Linked DNA regions of Homo sapiens. The protein of the gene in region 4 purifies or fractionates together with the protein of the main gene of each other region. This does not show direct contact. Each region holds a gene or a part of one and is shown on either strand. Other genes may lie near its edges.

Region 1 (5,655 bases), on a different chromosome or scaffold from region 4:
GTGTCGGGATTTCCTTTTTAAAACTGAATAATATTTCATTGTATGTATATACCACATTTTGTTTATCCATTTGTCAGTGGACATTTGGGTTGCTTCCACCTTTTGGCTATTGTGAATACTACTACTATGATCATTAATGTGCACATGTCTGTTTGAATCCCTGCTTTTAATTCTTTGGGATACTGTATGTACCTAGAAGTGAAAATTGCTGAGTCATAGGATAGTACTATGTTTAGTTTTTGAAACCATACTGTTTTCTTCAGTGGCTGTACCATTTTTACATTCCCATTGGCAGTACCTAAGGATTCCAATTTCTCCACATCATCATCAGCACTTATTTCCTGGTTTTGATAACAGTTATCCTAGGAGTGGCATTGTTTCTTTTTTTTTTCTTTTTTTTTTTTTTTGAGACAGAGTCTCTCTCTGTCGCCCAGGCTGGAATGCAGTGGCGCTATCTCGGCTCACTGCAAGCGCCGCCTCCCGGGTTCACGCCATTCCCCTGCCTCAGCCTCCCAAGTAGCTGGGACTACAGGCGCCCGCAACCACGCCCGGCTAATTTTTTTTTTTTATTTTTAGTAGAGACGGGGTTTCATCCTGTTAGCCAGGATGGTCTCGATCTCCTGACCTCGTGATCCGCCTGTCTCGGCCTCCCAAAGTGCTGGGATTACAGGCGTGAGCCACTGCGCCCGGCAGAAGTGGCACTGTTTCGCATTTTTGCAAAACTAATGTGTGACATAATAGAAGGTAACTGGATTCTTATGTCTGCCTCTGCATTTAAGCTGCTGCACTGTTTCATTTTGGTTTAAGATGAAGAAAATCCCACCTCACAGTCATATGAAGTTGGAAAGAAGAATATTTTAATAGCTTTTTAAAGATAATCATGGATGTTCTTTGATATCACATCAAAGTTTGACAAATCGTAGCTTTTTAAAGGTTAGTTACAAAGTGGAATTTGAAACTATATCAATGTACTTGTTTTACACTGTTACATTAATATCCAATGGTGTACCTTACACTTTGAATGGATGTTGAATCCATGCCTGTTTTTTAAAACATTAAGCATAAGTCCTTCGGAAATTTTAGTGGTTCACTGTGTTATACAGTTCTTCCTAATGTTGACATATTTCATTATACAGTATCAAACAATCACTTTCCTTAATGTCTTCCTATTTAGTCGGAAAAGTCTTCAAGTATTGGGAAGCTGTCAAGCTCACAGTGGCAGATAGGATTTTCCAAAATTCTAGTTTTCACTTGAAAGCTAGAATTTTATCATTGGTAACACAAACTGTCAGTTGTTTTACTTGAAGTGACAATCTCACTTTGTTACATTTTTGACAGAATTTCTGCCACATACTTAAGTCTGAATAACCCTGGTTTGTCTGTCAGTAGTTTTTTTCTGGTAAAAATGGTGTTCCATGGGCTGGGCACGGTGGCTCACGCCTGTAATCCCAGCACTTTGGGAGGCCATGGCAGGTGGATCACGAAGTCAGGAGATCGAGACCATCCTGGCTAACACGGTGAAACCCTGTCTCTACTGAAAATACAAAAAATTAGCCGGGCGTGGTGGCGGGCGCCTGTAGTCCCAACTACTCGGGAGGCTGAGGCAGGAGAATGGCGTGAACCCGGAAGGTGGAGTTTGCAGTGCGCCGAGATTGTGCCACTGCACTCCAGCCTGGGCGACAGAGCGAGACTCCGTCTCAAAAAAAAAAAAAAAAAAATGGTTTTCCATGAAAAAAATCTATTTCAGCTCACAGTTCAACCAATTGCAAAAGTGCTTTTGATTTGGGCAACCAAATCCTCAGGACAACCCTTATACTCAGGTACACAGCAGAAATGCTTTGTGTGTACTTGGTCACATATAACTCAAAGGTAGAGATTTAATAAAAATTCATACTTTTTACCATTTCATTAAGGATATTCTAAAATGAAATTGACATTATTTTTAGCCTGAGTGCATGGCAATGAAAAATATAGCTACTAGTATAGTTTGGTGTCATTGCCTCAATTTGTGCTGAAGTACCAACAGTATTATCCACCATTCCTTTTCGCCATCAGTGCAAATGTTCATAAAGTAAAAAGGATAAATAATGTCTTAGTATTGTTATGAAAGATTTTTAACCTCACAGATTCCTTGAAAGTGTCTCAGGAACCCCTCCCCATACCTCTACCTTTAAGGTTTGTGGACTACATTTTGAGAGCTGCCGATATGTGGTATTAGATTCTTTGTTTATGCATGGAAGAAAATAAATATACTAATAGCCAAAAAATTATTACCTTGTTAGAAGCTACCATAAATATATTAACTAATTTGTTACATAAGGGCATATCTTACAGTTAATCATCATATATGGTAGTCCTTAACCCAGGGCTTCCTTGACTTAATCACAGAATCTGCTCTGTTTCAAAATCAGTATCTTCCAAAAGAGTTCATATTAGACAACATGGAGGACCCCCTGTGTTCTCCTGTTTTTCCTGTTTCCTCTGACACTTGGGAGTTCATTTTAGTGTTATGGAGTAACTAGGCTTTTGCCTAACTGACTTACAGTTTCCATTGGGTTTTCTTGTTGGCAGAGCTGCTATATCCCCTTCCCAAGGCCAGCTTCCAGCTAGGATCATTGATTGGGGTGTTCAGCCAACTTCTTGGGAATAAGTGGACTGAGAATCTGGAGTTTGGATTATAGTTGCTGTTCAATTCACTTTGTGACCTTAAAAAAATCACTCACTCCCTTGGACCTCTTTCAAGTTATGTACCTATGTATGTATGTATTTTAGAGACAAGGTCTCACTCTGTCATCCAGGCTGAAGTGCAGTGGGGCATGATCATGGCTCACTGCGGTCTCAAACTCTGGTTTCAAACAATCCTCCCTGCCTCAGCCTTCTGAGTAGCTGGGACTACAGGCGCTCACCACCATGCCCAGCTAATTTGAAAAAATTGTTTGTAGAGATAGGATCTTGCTATGTTGCCGAGGCTAGTCTAGAATTCCTGGCCACAAATGATCCTCCCATCTCAACCTCTGAAAGTGCTGGGATTACAGGAGTGTACTATCATGCCTGGCCCAGGTTCCTTATATTGTAAAATGAAAAGGACTAGACTAAATAATAGCTAAGGCCTTAAAAAAAAAACAAAAAGCAAAAAACCTCTATATTGCCATAGCAAACCAGGAGAATTCCTCCTCCTACCTCAGATTGTACAGCATGTGACCCAAGCAAAGCCTAATGTATATTATAGAATAAGAGGGATGAGTGACATGGTCAAAGAAACAAACGAGAAGGTTGACTCAACAATATTTAGCCGAAACAATAGCTGTAATAGCCTAGCTTCCTCTTGCAATTAGAAAAGACAGCTTGGTTTGTTTTTTGGTTTTTGTTTTTTTGAGACAGTCTCGCTCTGTTGCCCAGGCTGGAATACAGTGGCATGATCTCGGCTCACTGCAACCTCTGCCTTCTGGGTTCAAGCAATTATCCTGCCTCAGGCTCCTGAGTGGCTGGGATTACAGGTCCCCACAACCACGCCTGGCTGATTTTTTGTATTTTTAGTAGAGCTGGGGTTTCACTATGTGGGCCTGGCTGGTCTTGAACTCCTGACCTCAAGTGATCTGCCCACCTCAGCTTCCTAAAGTGCTGGGATTATAGGCGTGAGCCACTGCACCTGGCCTAAAAAACACAGCTTGGTTTTTTAAAATGATGACAGCAATGCGTGTTCATTATTGAAAACTTAGCAAGTAATGACAAGCAAAAGAAAATATTAAATATATATATAATCCAGCCACCTGGAACAGCCAATTCTTAACAGCTTTCAAAATTTCCTCTATGAACAGACTTTCTTTTTATAAATATGATATTGTTATTCTTTTATAATTTTTAATATTATACAAACATCCCCTAAAATATAAATAGCTATAATATATTCCTTTTGGGGATGTATGCAATTTGATTAATATACGCCTTTAGAAATGTCAACTATTCCCAACTTCCTGCAATGAGTAATAGTGCTTGGATAAACATTCCTATTGTCCTTTTCCAAATCTTTAGTTATTTTCTTAGTATAAATTCTTACAAATGGAATTTGTACATCAAAGGGCATGCATACCTTTCAGGTCTTTGGTACTTATCATCTTATTCTATTCTAAAAACTTTCTCCCAAATTATAACCTTACCAGGTGAGTAAGTAAATGCTGGTTTCCTATACTGTTACCAACATTGAGCATTTTAATTTTTTTTATCCTTACCAGTTTGATAAGTGGAAATTTCTCTTATTATAATTTGCATTTTCATACATTTTTGGAAGGTTTATTCAGTGAGTATAATTCCTAAACAAAAATTCAGGAGTTGTGGTCTGGAAACCAAAAAGTTATTTGTTGTCTGATGTGAAAATTTATTTATATGGAAAATCTTAGAAAGTCAGACAAATTCAATTACAGTTTTCTTGGTGTTTTTGTTTGTTTGTTTGAGACAGAGTCTCACTTGGTTGCCCAGGCTAGAGTGCAGTGGCATGATCATGGCTCACTGCAGCCTCGACCTCCCGGGCTCAAACGATCCTCCCACTTCAGCCTCCCGAGTAGCTGGGACTACAGGTGTTTGCCACCACACCCGGCTAATCTTTGTATTTCTTGTAGAGACAGGGCTTCGCCATGTTGCCCAAGCTGGTCTCTAATTCCTGGGCTCGAGTGATCTGCCCGCCTCAACCTTCCAGAGTGCTGGGATTACAGGCATGAGCTACTGGGCCCAGCCTAAATTACAGTTATTAATAAACTTAACAATATTTACAGGTCTAAGTGTAATTAAATAAAATTGAGATTATTCCTCTAAAACCAGTAGGCATAATCTCCAAAATGTTAAGAGAACAGTATTGGGGAAAAAAATCTAGTAAAGAAAGGGTTTTTTAAGTTAAAGTATCAAGAGCTAGGTTGACATTATTTGTACAAATGGATTTGGTTATAAAATAGGTTTTCTTTTCTTTTTTTTTTTTTTTTTTTTTTTAGGATGGAGTCTTGCACTGTTGCCCGGGCTGGAGTGCAGTGGCACGATCTTGGATCACTGCAACCTCCGCCTCCTGGGTTCAAGTGATTCTCCTGCCTCAGCCTCCGGAGTAGCTGGGATTACAGGCACCTGCCACCACGCCCAGCTAATATTTTGTATTTTTAGCAGAGACGGGGTTTTACCATGTTGGCTAGGCTGGTCTCGAACTCCTGATCTCATGATTCACCCGCGTCGGCCTCCCAAAGTGCTGGGATTACAGGCGTGAACCACCGTGCTCCGCCGAGGATTGATTTCTTTCTTTTTTGTTTGTCCTTTAACCCTGGTTTTGGTCAGAAGCAACCTGGTTCTTTCTCAGAGTTAAACATTATCACCTCTTTGGTTAAGACAAAGCACAGGACTTACTTGGGAAGAATCCCCTGAATTAAAGATATGAAGAACCAAGGAAACTGATGTGTATTGAATACATATGTAAATGCCAAGCTGCCGCATTGCAAAGTGCATGTAGCATCATAGAGTCGACTATATAAATCTAGAAACAGCTCGCCTGAGTTTGAATGCTGGTTTTGCCACTGACTAGCATTGTGATCTTAGGCAAGAATACTTAAGTTCTCCGTATCTGTTTCCTCCTCAGTAAATTGATAATTGATTGGCTGATTTCTTCATTCACCAAATATT
Region 2 (5,655 bases), on a different chromosome or scaffold from region 4:
GATATGAAAACAGAAGCACTTTTTGTTTGCCTCATTCAGCCCAGCCAACCTTTTGCATTTACCTCAAATGACAGCATAGACTAATTTTGGTAAGTCAAAAAACTTGCTAGATAACAGCATCCTTGAAAGATAACAACGTGGCTAGGTGCAGTGGCTCACCTCACACCTGTAATCTCAGAAGTTTAGGAGGCCAAGGTGGGTGGATCACGAGGTCAGGAGTTCAAGAACAGCCTGGCCAACATAGTGAAACCCCATCTCTACTAAAAATACAAAAATTAGCCGGGTGTGGTGGCATGTGCCTGTAGTCCCAGCTACTAGGGAGGCTGAGGGAGAATCGCTTGAACCCGGGAGGTGGAGGCTGCAGTGAGCCAAGACCACGCCATTGCACTCCTGCCTGGGTGACAGAGTGAGACTCCGTCTTAAAAACAAAAAACAAAAAACAAAAAAGATAACAATGTACAGAGTAGTCCAAAAAGAAATAAATTCCCTTTCTCTTCAAAATACTCTGTTAATGAATACGAGAACAGTGCAAACGTGTGTTGGAATTCACCAAGTAAAAATAGTACTGGGCCCTTCAGCAGAAAGCACTCTTTGTAGAAAGTCACTTTCGTAGTCTCTGGCAAAGTTTTTGCAGTCATTTTGTAGTCCTTAGGATTCATACCAACAATTCAATCCATTCTAGAACTTATTCACCTCAAAAACAACTATTTAGGAACCTAGTAAATTTATAAATTCTTAAGTGAGACAGACTCAAGATCAACAATAAGCTTGCTGATGAGAGCAATTTCACCACAGTTGGGAAAGTAATATATAACCTTTCTGGAGGACCTATCGTAATCTTTTTTAAGTTTTTATTTATTTATTTATTTATTTATTTTTGAGACGAGTCTCACTCTGTCACCCAGGCTGGAGTGCAGTGGCATGATCTCAGCTCACCGCAACCTCCGCCTCCCGGGTTCAAGTGATTCTCCTGCCTCAACCACCAGAGTAGCTGGGATTACAGGCGCCCGACACTACGCCCAGCTAATTTTTGTATTTTCAGTAGAGACGGGGTTTCACCATGTTGGCCAGGCTGCTCTCAAACTCCTGACCTCAAGTGATCCACCTACTTTGGCCTCCCAAAGTGTTGGGATTATAGGCGTGAGCCACCACGTCCGGCCCTATGGTCATCTTTATATCAAAGGCCTTGCAAATGCTCATAGGCTTTGACCCAGGAATTCCTCTTCAAGGAATTACCCTGAGGAAATATTCAGATGTAAAGAGATACTCATTCTAGTGTTATTTATAACAGAAAATTGGAAACAACCTAAATAACTACAAATAGAGGACTGGTTTAGTAACTGATGGGCTATACATGCAGGAGAATATGATGCAGTTATGCTTACCAGTATGGAAACATGCACTCCAGCATGCTTCTGGAGTCACACACTATTAAAAACTCCATTTGCACACTGTTGCAACTTTTTAAAAGCTTTACAGAGTAGGATGCATATTAATCCAACATGTATTCTGTTTTTTAATAACATGTATACAATTATATACACAAAGGCTAGAGGGAACCACAATGACTATAGCTTACTATAGCTGAGTTATGATTTATAGGTGTTTTATATGGTACTTTTCTGAAGATGTGTTACTTTTATAAGCACTAAACATCCATTTATTTAAAAGCACTACACAGGCCAGGCACGGTGGCTCACACCTGTAATCCCAGCACTTTGGGAGGCCGAGGCGGGCAGATTACTTGAGATTGGGAGTTCAAGACCAGCCTGACCAACATGGAGAAACCCCGTCTCTACTAAAAATACAAAATTAGTCGGGTGTGGTGGCACATGCCTGTAATCCCAGCTACTCGGGAGGCTGAGGCACGAGAATCGCTTGAACCCGGGAGGCGGAGGTTACGGTGAGCCGAGATTGTGCCATTGCATTCCAGCCTGGGCAACAAGAGCAAAACTCTGTCTCTAAATAAATAAATAAATAAATAAAGGCACTACACAGGCTGGGCACGTGGTTCATGCCTTAAATCCCAGTACTCTGGGAAGCTGAGGTGGGAGGATTGCTGGAGCCCAGGAATTTGAGACCAGCCCAAGCAACACAGAGAGACTCTGTCTCCACAATAATTAAAAAAAAAAAAAAAAAAAAAAAAAAAAAAAAATTAAAAGCATTAGACATGCAAGCAAGAGACCTAGGTTCAAGTCCCAATATAATACTAACTATACCACCCTTACTTGATGTGTCAGTTTTATAGATGAGGAAACAGATTCACATTAAGTGGAGATAAGAGCAGCAGCTTCGTAGTTACAAAGATTAAATAAGGTAAAACATAAAAATGCTTTGCAACTTCTAAGGCACTATATAAAGCACTAGAAGGATGGGAGAATCATGTTTTGTGTCAGATATGAAACAACTGGCTTAGAAAAAAAAAAGAATGAAGCATTTTTACTCCTTAAAGAAAAGCTTCTGTCCTTCCCCATTGCCCAATCCTCAACCCCCAATCCTGTTGGGGATTTTTCCTGTTAGAGATTTTATTCAAAAACATTTAGCATCTCTTTTCTTCTTTAAAAACTTTAAACTAAATTGAAAGAGCTGTGCCAGTTGTCAACTCAAGTTGAAATGAATAATAAGTCGTGTGTTAGCCTAATGCCCTCTGCAATAGGTCAGCTTTTACAAAAAGTCTTGATTTATGATATGCAATTTTGTGAACTGTTAGGAAACAAATTATTTTAGTTCTCAGGGAGACAGAAAACTCCCTATCAGATTATTATTATTATTATTTTGAGACAGAGACTGGCTCTATCATCCAGGCTGGAGTGCAGTGGCACGATCTCGGGTCACTGCAACCTCTGCTTCCCAGGTTCAAGCGATTCTCATGTCTCAGCCTCCCTAGTAGCTAGGATTACAGGCACTCGCCACCATGCCCGGCTTTTTTTTTTTTTTTTTTTAAACTTTTAGTGGAGATGGGGTTTCGTCATATTGGCCAGGCTGGTCTTGAACTTCTGACCTCAAATGATCCACCCGCCTTGGCCTCCCAAAGTTCTGGGATTATAGGTTGTGACCCACCGTGCCCGGCCCCTATCAGGTTTTTAAAATATATGACGACTCCCAAACAAGACAGACTCATAAATTTTATTACTAACAACAAAAATTAGGATCCAGGACATCACTTCTTAAAAAGAGATCAAAAGTTAACAACTAATTTTGAAAGGCAAACTCACATTATTTTTCATAAACTAAAACTTCCAGTTTGAAAAGTCAAATTTCTTTAGAAATAAAATACTGCTAACTTACTTTTGCAAAGCATTTTCCTAAAACTTCTGAACCTAAAGCCCCAGGCAAGACCTCTCTCTAAAAGGCATGGGAACATAAAATGAATTTGACATTTAGCTTGAACTTAACTTTAGCATTTGAGCTACTCAAAGGACATGGTTGTAGGTCACATTCTAACCCGGTGTAGTGCTTCTGGTGTCACACACTAGTACAAACTCCATTTGGATACTGTTGCAACAATTCAGGTTATGTATTGCCCAGTTTCACAAACCAGTGCTAAAGTTCAGGGTACAGCCTCCTCCCATGCAGCAACCCCACCTCAAAAAAAAAAAAAAAAAAAAAAAAAAAAGCTCCACAACAGCTTGCATCTGTAATCTACCTTCTGCTACAATTTAAAACCTCCTTAATAAACAGTTATGCTTCTAAAATTCAATTACTTGCACTACAAAAGGATTCAACCAGAATCCTTTACAGAGACTGTTAACAAATCAAGAGATAAACTGTAAGTTAGGAAAATTTTAAACTAAGCTAGAAAATCTCAAAAGATTTGTGAACAAAGGAAAAGTAGCTCTGAAGCTATAACAAATGAAGAAATGACTTCAAAAATAAAGGTACCTTAATAAGTAACTTATAAAACTGCAACACACCTATATAGCAAAATGAGAAAAATACCAAGGAACAGAAGTTTAAAAAGCAAACAGCAAACCTCCTCTATCCATCAACCCTGTAATCTTATGTATTACAGAATGAAAGACCACTCAGAATAGTCAGAAAGCCACTAGTCAATGGCTTCCTAAACCCTGCTATTTCATTAGTCCTAGATGGCTCTTTTACTAAATCCACTCACACTTCCTTATTAATATTCCACAATTTTCTCTTGGAAGCACACAGCTCATTATGAAATCAGGCATATTTAAAGTACTGATTGATCTCAGAATTTATATATTTGATTGCTGCAATTTTTAAAGTATTTTCCCTTATATAAAATAATTATATGTATATTAATATTATATAGCTACATAAAAAAACAGCTATATTCCTCACAAAGTTAAACAGGGTTACAATATGACCCAGCAATTCTACTCCTAGGTATATATCCCCTCAAATTAAAAACATGTCCATACAAAAGCTTGCACACAAATGTGCACAGCACTATTCACAATAGCCAAAAGTAGAAACAACTCGATGGCCATCAACAGATGAATGGATCAACAAAATGTGGTATATAAATATAATGGAACATTATTCAGTCATAAAAAGGGAGGAAGTACTGACACATGCTCCAACATGGATGAACTCTGAAAACATGCTAAGGGAAAACATGCTAAGGAAAAGGCCACATATTACACGATCCATTTGTATGAAATGTCTCAAACACAAATCCACAGACAGAATCTGCTTTCTGTTGCCAGGGAGATGGGGAGTGACTGCTAATGGATAGGGGGTTTCTTGGGGGGTGATGAAAAACATTCTGGAACTAGATAGTGGCAGTGGCTGTACAACTTTGTGAATGTAAAAACTACTGAACTGTACACTTTAAAAGGATACATGCTATGGAATGTGAATTATACATATCAGTTTTTAAAAATTCACTCAAGGGGCTGGGCACGTGGTTCACGCCTGTAATCCCAGCACTTTGGGAGGCCAAGGCAGGTGGATCACCTGAGGTCAGGAGTTCGAGACTAGCCTGGCCAACATGGTGAAACCCCGTCTCTACTAAAAATATAAAAATTGGCCAGGTGTAATGGTGGGTGCCTGTAATCCCAGCTACTTGGGAGGCTGAGGCAGAAGAACTGTTTGAACCCAGGAGGCAGAGGTTGCAGTGAGCCAAGATCGCGCCACTGCTCTCCAGCCTGGGCACAAGGGCGAGACTCTGTCTCAAAAAAAAAAAAAAAAAAAAAATTCACTCAGGGTCATATTTGCTATCAACAGGTAGATGATGCTGGAATCTGACTTTAAGAAAATTATGGCATGTCCTGCACATGTATCCTGGAATTTAAAAAAAGTAAAATTAAAAAAAAAAAGAAAAAAAAATTATGGTAATATAATGAGAGTGGTGTCCTGACATGGCTTGAAATCTAGCTGAGGAAAATTCCAACAAGGACTTCTTGAAAGACTGAAGTCAGTGGGTGCACACACACACTCTGAAGGTGACTACTTTTTTAAAAGGACAACTCACTTTCAGAATAGAGGTTCTATAAGTACATTAAAATGATCATGACTGTTTGAAAACACCAAATTCTACCTCATCCATTCACTTCCTAAATATAATTTAGATCTTAATTTTGTTCATATGATCTTTACACCTCAAGACAACTACTTTTAAGACTGACATTACTCACAAAAACACTTCAAAATCCTGACCACGATCAAAATCAGATCCAAAGG
Region 3 (5,655 bases), on a different chromosome or scaffold from region 4:
AACTAAACATGGTAAAAAATGAAATACCATTTGATCCAGCAATCTCACTACTGGGTATCTACCCATCTGCATTTTACATATACGTGGAATACTATGCAGCCATAAAAAAATAATGAAGTCGTGTGTTTTGCAGTAACATGAGTGGAACTGGAGTACGTTATCTTAAGTAAAATAATTCAGAAACAGAAAGTCAAATATCACATATTCTCACTTGTAAGTGAGAGCTTAACAATGGGTACACATGGACATATAGAGTAGCATAATAGATATTGGAGACTACAAAAGGGTGGGAAGTTGACAAGGGTTGAAAAATTACCTCTTGGGTACAATGTTCCCTCTTCAGGTGATGGGTACACTAAAAGCCCAGACTCCACCACGATGCGATATATGCATGTAAGAAATCTGCACTTGTACCCTCTAAATCCATTTTTAAAATCGAAAAATATCACCGTAAGATACCGCTTCACAGCCACTGGAATGACTATTATAAGCAAACAAAGCAAAGAGCAAACAAGTTTTGGTAGGGCCTGGTGGGAGGTGTTTTCATCATGGGGGCAGGTCCTTCATGGGTGGCTTGGTACCACTCTCATAGTAATGAGTGAGTTCTCCCTCTGAATTCATTGCAAGAGTTGGTCGTTTAAAAGAGTGTGGCATGTCCTTGGAACAGCTACAATTCATACATTGTTGATGACAGTGTAAAATGGTACAAGTACTTTGGTAAAACTTGTTGCAGTTATTTATGAAACTAAGCATTCACCTACTCTATGACCCAGCAGTTCCACTCCTAGGTATTTACCTTAGTGAAATGAAAATGAAAACATATTAAAAAAAACACTTTTACATGAATGTTCACAGCAACTTTATTCATAATAACCTGAAACTGGAAAGAGTCCAGATGTGTATTCATAAAAGAAGAGATAAACAGAACAGGCAAAAATCTAATCTATAGTGGTAAAAGAAAATCAAACTGTGGGTTCCTCTGAGATGTATGTGCAGAAGTATGAGAGTACTTCCTGTAGTGATAGTAATATTTTATATCTTGATAAGGGTTTGGGTTAAATAGGTATATGCATTGGTCAAAACTCAGTGAGTGTATATTTAATATTTTAAACATCATTGCATATACATTGTAACTTTAAAAAGCTGTAAGCAAATATTGAACTCTACTTAATGATATAAATGTTGAAGTATTAGGGAGATATGTACTGATATCTGCAATGTATTATACTTTAAAATTCACTGAAAATAAGATTAACTGATGAATGAATAGATGGGAAGATAGGTGATAAAGCAAGTATAGAAATATCTTAATGGTAGAATCTAGATGTAAGTCTATGGCTTTTCTGTGTTAAATGTTTTCAACTTTTCTATATGTTTAGAAATGTTCATAATAAAATGTTGGGAAAATAGAGTTACTACTCATTGTTTTAGGCACTTAGATATATGAGAGATAACAGAGGGAGAGTTTCCCAGAGGAACTTATCCAAGGGAAGTAAATTAATATTTACACAGTTCCTCCTACAAGCCAGGGGTAAAGGTAAGGATAACAATTTATTTTTAACTTCACAACAAGTGGGCACAGAAGGTATTATTATTGTAACTGGAAACTCATGACTAGCAGGTTAAGTAACTTGTCCAAGGCCAAAAATCAATAAATGGCAGACAGGATTTCACACTGAACTCCTTCTGATTACAAAGCCTGTACTCTTTGTAGTATGTCAAGTTTTGCAGCTATCTTCACCCTGCCTCTTCACCCCATATCTCCTTCCCTGCTTTTTTGTTTTTCCCTAGTACTTATCACAATTTGATATATTATATATTTGCTTATTTATTTTTAATTACTCTGTCGTCACTATAATGAGAATTCCAAGATGGCCAGGAATTTTTGTCTATTGTGCCTACAGTTTCATCTGCAGTGTCAAGAACAGAGCATGACTCTTGGTAGATGCTCATGAAATATTTGCTGAGTAAACTGAATTAATGCACAGTAACAGTTTGCTTGGAATAAGCAGAAGCAGGAGCGGTAATCCATCTGCAAAAATGCATAGTAAAAAGCTTGGCTGCAAGATGCAAAATAATGGGCTCCAGAAACCCAAAGCAGTTTGGAATAGCTAGGGAAGAATGTATGGAAAACATGAATTACATGCTAGAAGAGTAAGAAGGGATCAGATCATACAGAACCTTAAAAGCCATAAGGAAGGACTCTAGTCTTTCTCTGAAAGACACTGGGGAGGTTTAGAAGGATCTTAACATGGGAGCAGAAGATAAGACTCAGCATGAAAAATTAATGGAAGAGGGCTCACAATGGAAGCAAGGACATCAGTTACAACTTTAGCCATGGGAAAGAAAAGTGTTCTCACTGCAAGAAGAGGCATTGTAGATAGAAAGCAGGGGATAGTTTGAGAAAAATATAGGAGATTGAGTTGATAAGACTGGTTGTGTAATATAAGGGAGAGGGAAAAATTAAATATGATGTTTGGTTTATGGCTTGGGAAACTTAGTGGATGGTGGTACCATTCAATGAAAATGGGAAAACAAGTGGAGAAGTAGGTTTAAAATGAGTAGAAGTGATGAGTTCACGTTTGAATATGATATGTTTTATATTCTACAAAATATCTAAGTTGTGATATCAGTAGTCAATTGAATACACAGGTCAAGAGCTTTGCATAAATCTGGGCTGGATACATAAATGTTGTTGGGTAACCTAGCTGTTTGGTCACTGAGGATAATTTAATAACTCTTTTTCATTTAATAATGTTTTCATTTAAAAAATACTACCTCTAATATTTGACCCCACCCCTAAAATAAACCTAGTATTCTTTGGTTGGTGGCTATTTACTATTCCATGGGAATTATAAGAAGAATACAAACTGTTTGATAATAAAAAGCTATAGAATAGCAAGATTAAAATGTAGCAGATATAAGAATCTTAGGGATTTTTGTTACATTAGAAGGCTAATCTTTGGCAAATATATTACAGTTGGGGATAGTTCTTTGATACTCACCTGATCAAATACAGCTCTTTATTCCATGGGTAGATATTTAAGACTGGCCCAATCCCAATCATGTGGTTGTGACATTCTCCAACATCTTCAATATATTCATGCTTCAATGGCACTTTACTGAGGAGTTCAAATTCCTCAGGTGCCTTTTGAAGTACCTGTTCTGCTGCATAGAATCCATCTACTAGCAGTGTCCTGCCACCAGTTCCTTCATGTTTAAGACAATGAAACACTTGAATGCTAAAGAGAGAAAAGAAAATTCTTCTGTTCAGTGGAAGAGAGAACATATCAAAATTCTAGAAATTATATATAAAATGATTACTGAAACTACTTGTCATTTTCTTTTCATTTCCTAATTGGAAATCTCATTTCTTAATTGTTTTTCTCTCATAGGCAGTTGTACTTTTTTGTGTTTTGAAATATTAATGCCACTAGAGGTTTCTTCTAAACATATCTAACATATATTGAAGCTTATATGTGCTGGGCCCTGGGAATACAGGCATGAATAATATATAACCTATATTTTCAAGAAGCTCATAGTCTAGTAAGAAGAACTAAAGCAAATAAATACCAAATAAAATATGATAGGTACTATAATAAAGTTGCATACAAGATATAGTGGGGTCATAAACAAAGGAATGATCTGTTCTAGCGGGGTGTTGTATAAAGAAATGTTTTGGAGAAGAATGAAAATTGTTTTGACTAATCTTAAAGAATGAGCAAGAATTGGAGTAGAAGGAGATTGAGATGAGGAGAAGGCATTCTAGGCGGAGAGAAAGCATGACCAAAGATACCAATGTAAAACAACAAGGAGTAAGAAGTTCCTATTGGCATAGCACAGAGAACCACAAAATGATTTTAAACTGTGAAACTCTACGGCCATATCAATATTTTAAAGAGTCCATTATGTTGATAGTGTGGAACATGGACTGGTGAGAAGCAACGTGACAAAAAACTTGGAAACCAACTTGAACAACTGAAATAGTAAAGAAAAATATTGAGAGCTTGAACTCAGAAAGGGGCGTTATAGAGAAGAAGACACACCTGAGAGATACCGAGATAGAAGTAGCAGAATTTGATAACTGAAGGATAGGCAAGAATCTAGAATAACTCCAGGTTTCTCACTTGGGCACCTGAAAAATGATAATGCTATTTACTAAGACCGAGATTACAGACAGATATGCTGTTGAATGATAATGAGGAAGTATGAGAGGTTGAGGAAGGAGTTCAGTTTAGAGGCATGTTAGAACAGCTAATCATATACAGTTTCTGAATATGTTAACAGGGAAAGGTAAGGTGACTATTAATTGACTGGAAAACTAAGGTAGAATTTTCAAACTTATGAGGGAAAATAAAATTAATAGTAATTTAATCAAATATGCAAAACTAAGAAAAAGTAAAAAGCAAATTAAAATAAGAAATAAACAAAAATATGGAGTAAAATCAAGGACAATCTAATATAATATAAATACAATTAAAAAGAGAAAGGTAAGCCTGGCCATATTGAAATTTCTGTGAAACTTCTAGGTCAGGGTTATTTAGTTACCAGTTAAAGATGTTTAAGGAAGAGAGGTGGATTTTGTTACAAGTGATAGCTAAAGCCAAGAGCATGGAAGAGGTCGTTTGGAGAGATCATTTCAAGTAAGAAAAGAGGGATAAGGAGAAAACCTTGAGGAAGAATAATATTTAGGAAATAGACAAAAGAAGCCAGCAAAGGAGGCTGAGGAAAAATGGTCAGATATATAGGAAGAAAACTAGGAAAGAAGGAATATTTAAGAAATTTAGTAGTGGTTAATGGTATGTCTCAGGGATCAAGTAAGATGACAGTACACACTGGATATGACAATTAGTTGCTGGTGACGTTAGAGAGAGTAACTTTAATTGCGGTGAGGGGTGGGTTGGGAAAACTAGATGCCTATGGGTTTGAGGAGTAAATGGGAAGTGAGAATGAAAATATATTGAATGTAGCTATTATTCTTTTAATAATCTTAGCCATGAAGTGGAAGAAAAAAACATGGCTGTAGCTAAACGGAGATAGAGTCCAAGGAAGTACAAAAATAGAGAATTAAGATATGGGAGGCTGATAAGAAGGAGTCAATAGGTATGGAAAGGCTGAAGATAGAGGAGAGAGAAATCCCCAAGGAAGCTGGAAAGGATGAGATCCAGAGCAAAGATAGCTTTAGAGAGAGTAAAGCATATAACAATGAAGATAGTGATTAAAATGAATAAAATGATGAAAATTATAGCTAATATTTATTGAACACTTAGTTTGTGTCAGGCAGTATGATCATATAATTTAATTCCTTAGCAATGCTAATGGATAGGTTAGTTTGTGTCAGGCAATATGATCATATAATTTAATTCCTTAGCAATGCTAATGGATAGGTTTTATATTACTAGTCCCATTTTACAGATGAGGAAACTGAAGTACAGAGAAATTAAGTTACTTGTCCAAGATCACAAATCTAATACATGTTGAGGCTGGAATGCAAATCTGGGTCTGGTTGATGCCATAGCCTGAACTCTTAAGTGCTATTACCATACTGCTAATTTACTTGGTCCTTGCCATTGATTACAAACAATTAAACTAAAGCCACAAACAGTTGTTTATCTCTGGTGTTGGTCATAAAGGGAAGAGCTAGTCAGTATTTGA
Region 4 (5,655 bases):
AGCCTCCTGCATAACTGAGACTACGGGTGCATGCCACCATGCCCAACTTGATGTATTCTTAAATTAGTTGACAGGAAAAGAGGACCTTGATTAGGATTTAAATGTAGCCACTTCTGACTTTTAGAGATTTGAATACTAAATATTGTCATTGAAAAGTTTGTACTACTAAGTTACTCTTAATATTTGAACTCCTGGTTTTTTGGCATTGCTTCAGATAGGAATTAATGTTTTAATATAAGTTTCTGCAATATTGATAACAATTAACTAATTTATTTCATAGCCCTTCTTTTCAAACTGGTGGTCTTCCAGGAAGGGAAATGGCTGGAGAGGAAGGAAGAATTTTCACTCTGCGTCCTTTTGTACTTTTTGAACTTTGAGAAATGTGAATGTATAAACTAAAAACAAATAAATAAAATTTTATAAATGTTTAAAGTGGAATAAATGAACAGCTCCTATTTTTCTATTATCTCCACTCTTCTAGGATCACCCCTTCTGTGTCATTCTCTGAGGAAAACAAGTTCTTCTCAAGGAGGAAAGTCTGAACTTGTCAAACAGTCCCTTAAGAAGCCGAAGTTACCAGAAGGTCGTTTTGATGCACCAGAGGATTCCCATTTAGAGAAAGAACCACTGGAAAGTAAGTATAATAAAGCACCTCTCAGTTTTTGAAGTATCAAGGAAAGTGTTTTAGTTATTGAGAAAATGAGTGAAAGGAAAGAAATTTGTTATTGCTTAAATTCTGTAGTAATAAAGCATATTTCAACAATGAGTAAAATCACCATATTGACCATCGATACATGTAGATTTCTTAATAAAAAAGATTTTCAAGATTCTGACAGGTATTTGATTGTGTTTGTTTTATTTGTTATACCTCATTATTCACATAACAAAATATATAAGTTGAGACCTTCTTTGTTACAAATAAATGATGTTATTTGTATCAAAGAAGGTTATGTTATTTGTATCAAAGATCTTATGTGAATAATGAGGTATAATAAATATAACCACTTTATATATGTAATGTACACATATTATATATAAAGGACTCCAATAACTCAACGAAAAGTCAAAAATAGCAAAGCACTTGAGTCTTAACTTATATATTTTGCTATATGAATAATGAGGTATGATAAATAAATAACAAATATATGTGTATATTATATGTATGTGTGTGTGTGTGTAGAACTCCAGTAATCTACAAAAAATAAAAATAAAAAATAGCAAAGTATTTGAGTAGACATTTCTCCAGAGAAGGTATACAAATGTACAAATGGCCAACAAACACATGAAAAGATGCTCAGCATCAGCATCATTATCATTAGGGAAATGCAAATCAAAACTATGAGATACTACTTCATACCCACTAGGATGGCTATAATAGAAAAAAATGGAAAATAACAAGTGTTGGGAAGGATGTGGAGAAATTGAAACCCTCAGGCATTTCTGCTGGGAATGTAAAATGTTGCAGCCACTGTGGAAAACAGTATGGCCGTTCCTCAAAAAATCAAACTTAGAACTACCGTTTGACCCAGCAGTTCCACTCTTAGGTGTGTATCTAAAGGAATTGAAAGCAGGGACTTGAACAGATATCTCTGTAACTATGTTCATAGTATTATTAACAGTAGCCAAAAGGTGGAAACAACCCAATGTTCACAAACAAATGAATCATTAAACAAAATGTGGCATATACATCCGGTGGAAAACTATTCAGTCATAAAAAGCAATTAAATTTTAATATATGCTACAACATGGATGGACCTTGAAAACATTATGTTTAGTGAAATAAGCTGGACCCAGAAGGGCAAATATATGATTCCACTTATATAAGGTACCTAGAATAGGCAAATTCATAGAGACAGAAAGTAGAATAGAGGCTATCAGGGACTCCGGGGACTAAGGGAGAAGTCATTGTTTAGTGGGTACAGAGTTCATTGTGGGGATGATGAAAATGTTTTAGGTATAGATAGTGGTGATGGTTGTACAACCTTGTGAATATATTTTTGTTGTTGTTTTTGTTTTTGAAATGGAGTCTCACTCTTTCACCTAGGCTGGAGTGCAGTGGCACACTCTCGGCTCACTGCAACCTCCGCCTCCCAGGTTCATGTAATACTCCTGTCTCAGCCTCCCGAGTAGCTGGGATTACAGGCACACCACCACACTGGCTCATTGTTGTATTTTTAGTAGAGATGGGGGTTTCACCATGTTGGCCAGGCTGGTCTTGAACTCCTGACCTCAAGTGACCAACCCCCCTCGGCCTCCCAAAGTGCTGGGATTACAGGCGTGAGCCACTGTGTCTGGCAGTGAATGTATTTAATACTACCAAATTGTACACTTACAAATGGTTAAATGAGAAATATTATGTTATATATATTTTACCACAGTAAAAAAAAAAGAAAGCAAAAACCTGCACTTTTCAAAAGCTAATCATCTATTTGACATAATGGTAGGCATTCAACGTAAGTCTTGTATCACTCAAGTTTATGTTGAACCTACCATCCCTTAGAAATTTCTGACAAACATCACCAAATACAGCAGGTACTCTTCAATCCTTGTTTTATTTGAACAATCCACAACCTTTGACAGTGTTAACTATTGCTTCTGGAAATCTCCTGCCTTGATTTCCATTATGCTTTCATTAGTTTCATTTTTGTGTGTGTATGTATGTGTGTGTGTGTTGTTTTGTTTTGTTTTGTTGAGACAGGGTCTTGCTCTGTTGCCCAGGCTAAAGTGCAGTGGCATGAACACATGGCTCACTGCAGCCTTAACCTTCCCAGCTCAAACTGTCCTCCTGCCTCAGTCTCCTGAGTAAGTGAGACCACAGGCACATACCACCATGCTCACCTAATTTAAAAAATTTTTTTGTAGAGATGAGGTCTTGCCATGTTACCCAGGCTGGCCTCAACTCCTGGGCTCAAGCAGTCCTTCTGCCTCGGCCTCCCAAAGTGCTGGGATTACAAGTATGAGCCACCATTCCTGGCATGCTTTCTTTAGTTTCTCACCCTATTTCTTCACCAGTTTCTTCCTGGGCTCCTTTTTGAGCTCCTCTGCCTCCGCCCAACACCTAAATGTGGGTATTTGCCAGGCCTCTGTTCTTAGCCCCCTAAGTATTCCAAGGGAGATTTCATATTTCCCTAAAATGATTAGATTTATTTGATTGATTGAGGCAGAGTCTCACTCTGTCACCCAGGCTGAAGTGCAGTGGCGCCATCACAGCTCACTGCACCCTCAACCTCCTGGGGTTCCCTACTCAGCCTCTCCTGTAACTGGGGCTACAGGCACGCACCACCACACCTGGCTAATTTTTCTATTTGTTTCTTTAAGAGATAGAGCTCAGTATGTTGCCCAGGCTGGTCTTGAACTCCTGGGCTCAAACGATCTTCCCACCTCAGCCTCCCAAAATGCTGAGATTACAGGCATGAGCCACCACGCCCGGCTTAAAATGATTTTAAATATCACCTATGTGTTGGTGATTCATACATTTATACCTCTAATCAGACCTCGTTCCTGAGCATCACTCTCCTGTCTCCATTTGCCTCCTGAGTATCTTTCTTTGCACATTCCAGAAGTCTCAAAATTAATATTTCTAAAACTAAAGTCATCGTGTACCCATTGTTCCAACTCACCTTCGGCCCTCCCACCTGCCTGATCTCATATCCTCCTCTTCCTTCGGGATTTCCAGTCCACCCCATCTACCAAGTCACCCAAGCCCGAAATCTGGGGATAATCTTTCACTCCTGCCTCTTCCTGTCTCCTGTGACTGATCACTAACCAAGTCCTGTTGCTTCTACCCTTTTAACATCTCTCAAATTTATTCCCTCTTACTCATCCTACCAGTAGGGCCCAAATTCAAGCTGTCTCTAGCTCCACTGGTCACCTAACAAGCCTCTCTGCTTCCTCGTTTCCTTCCTTCTAGTCTTGTCTCCCTGCCTCTAGTATGTACTTTATTCTAAGAAAACTGTGTAGGTTGTCTCCTTGAAAAGAGTAGATTTCATTATTAAGATCATAAAGGAAAATGTTTGTAGCTAGGCACCCTGCTTGACATAAAGATGAATAAGAAAGGAAGATGAGATAATGTAAATAACGATGAACAGGACATCATGTGGTAACTAGCATGAGAGATACACAAAAAGATCAGAGGAAAGTCGACAAAAGAGATAACGTTTGAGCTGGGGTCTAAGGAAAAATAATTTTTTGTTTTTTTGAGTTGGAGTCTCGCTCTGTCACCCAGGCTGGAGGACAATGGCGCAATTTCAGCTCACCGCAACCTCCGCCTCCCGGGTTCAAGCGATTCTCCTGCCTCAGCCTCCTGAGTAGCTGGGATTACAGGCGTCTGGCACCACACCTGGCTAATTTTTGTATTTTTAGTAGAAACGGGGTTTCACCATGTTGGTCAGGCTGGTCTCGAACTCCTGACCTCAGGTGATCCACCTGCCTTGGCCTTCCAAAGTGCTGAGGTTACAGGTGTGAGCCACCATGCCTGGCCGGAAAAGTAAAATTTTTATAAGTAGATAAGGTGTGGTGAGGAGACATTTCAAAATACCTGGAGAAAGCTATGGTCAAAGAGAAAGAGGCTGCAGAACATTAACACTTACAAGACACAGCTAATGGGCCTCTTTGGCTTCAGCATAAATTATATATATATTTGATTAATACAGGGTTGTCCAATCTCTTGGCTTCCCTGGGTCACATTGGAGGAAGAATTGTCTTAGGCCACACATAAAATACACTAACAACAGCTGATGAGCTAAACAAAAACAAAAACAAAACAAAACAAAAATCACACAAAAAAACTCAATGTTTTAAGAAAGTTTATGAATTTGTGTTGGGCCACATTCAAAGCCATCCTGGGCCACATGCAGCCCGTGGACTGTGGGTTAGACAGGCTTGGATTAATTGAATATAAAGCTAGACACACAGGTTCAGCTCAAATCTGGGAGGGCCTGAAATCCCAGGTTACAGTGTAAGGGCTTTATGCAGTGAGCAGTGAGGAAATGTATTTGGATAGAGGTTGTTTTAATTAGCTTTATTAAATATAGTCTGCATATGATAAAATTCACCCATGTTAAATATACAGTTGAGTGAGGTTGTTGTTGTTGTTGTTGTTGTTGTTGTTTGAGACGGAGTCTTGCTCTGTTGCCCAGGCTGGCTTGCAGTGGTATGATCTCGGCTCACTGCAACCTCTGCCTCGGGTTCAAGCGAGTCTCCTTCCTCAGCCTCCCTGGGATTACAGGCACCTGCCACCACACCCGGTTAATTTTTGTATTTTTAGTAGAGATGGGGTTTCACCATGTTAGCCAGGCTGGTCTCGAACTGCTGACCTCGTGATCCGCTCGCCTCGGCCTCCCACAGTGCTGGGGTTACAGGCATGAGCCACCACGCCTGGCTAGTGAGTTTTAACAAATGTTTACAGCCATGGAAACCACACAAAGTGTAAAATAGTTCTGTCCCCTAAAGAGGTACAAGGCAGTTCATCCTCTCCCCACCTCCTCCCAGCAACCATTGATCTGTTCTCTATCACTGTAGTTTTGCTTTTTCTAGGATTTTATATAAATGAAACTCTACAGTATGTAGTCTTTGGTGTCTGGTTCCTTTCACATAGTATAATGTGGAAGAGGGATTCTGTTGTATTAGTTCTAAAATGGGACACTGAGAGCAGGA

Evidence for each region.
Region 1: the proteins of SDHAF4 (region 4) and NLN fractionate together in Homo sapiens (co-fractionation; one large-scale study listed by BioGRID). This does not show direct contact.
Region 2: the proteins of SDHAF4 (region 4) and PPTC7 purify together in Homo sapiens (co-immunoprecipitation; one large-scale study listed by IntAct). This does not show direct contact.
Region 3: the proteins of SDHAF4 (region 4) and TMLHE purify together in Homo sapiens (affinity purification with mass spectrometry; one large-scale study listed by BioGRID and IntAct). This does not show direct contact.

What each region holds. Positions count from the first base shown.
Region 1 is NC_000005.10:65,724,413-65,730,067, forward strand, and holds part of NLN (neurolysin, mitochondrial), read left to right. Parts: intron 1-5,655. UniProt on the Homo sapiens protein: Hydrolyzes oligopeptides such as neurotensin, bradykinin and dynorphin A. Acts as a regulator of cannabinoid signaling pathway by mediating degradation of hemopressin, an antagonist peptide of the cannabinoid receptor CNR1.
Region 2 is NC_000012.12:110,572,020-110,577,674, forward strand, and holds part of PPTC7 (protein phosphatase PTC7 homolog), read right to left. Parts: intron 1-5,655. UniProt on the Homo sapiens protein: Protein phosphatase that plays an essential role in mitochondrial metabolism and biogenesis. Positively regulates biosynthesis of the ubiquinone, coenzyme Q. Dephosphorylates the ubiquinone biosynthesis protein COQ7 which is likely to lead to its activation.
Region 3 is NC_000023.11:155,503,893-155,509,547, forward strand, and holds part of TMLHE (trimethyllysine dioxygenase, mitochondrial isoform 1 precursor), read right to left. Parts: intron 3,243-5,655; coding exon 3,006-3,242; intron 1-3,005. UniProt on the Homo sapiens protein: Converts trimethyllysine (TML) into hydroxytrimethyllysine (HTML).
Region 4 is NC_000006.12:70,578,933-70,584,587, forward strand, and holds part of SDHAF4 (succinate dehydrogenase assembly factor 4, mitochondrial precursor), read left to right. Parts: intron 1-481; coding exon 482-634; intron 635-5,655. UniProt on the Homo sapiens protein: Plays an essential role in the assembly of succinate dehydrogenase (SDH), an enzyme complex (also referred to as respiratory complex II) that is a component of both the tricarboxylic acid (TCA) cycle and the mitochondrial electron transport chain, and which couples the oxidation of succinate to fumarate with the reduction of ubiquinone (coenzyme Q) to ubiquinol.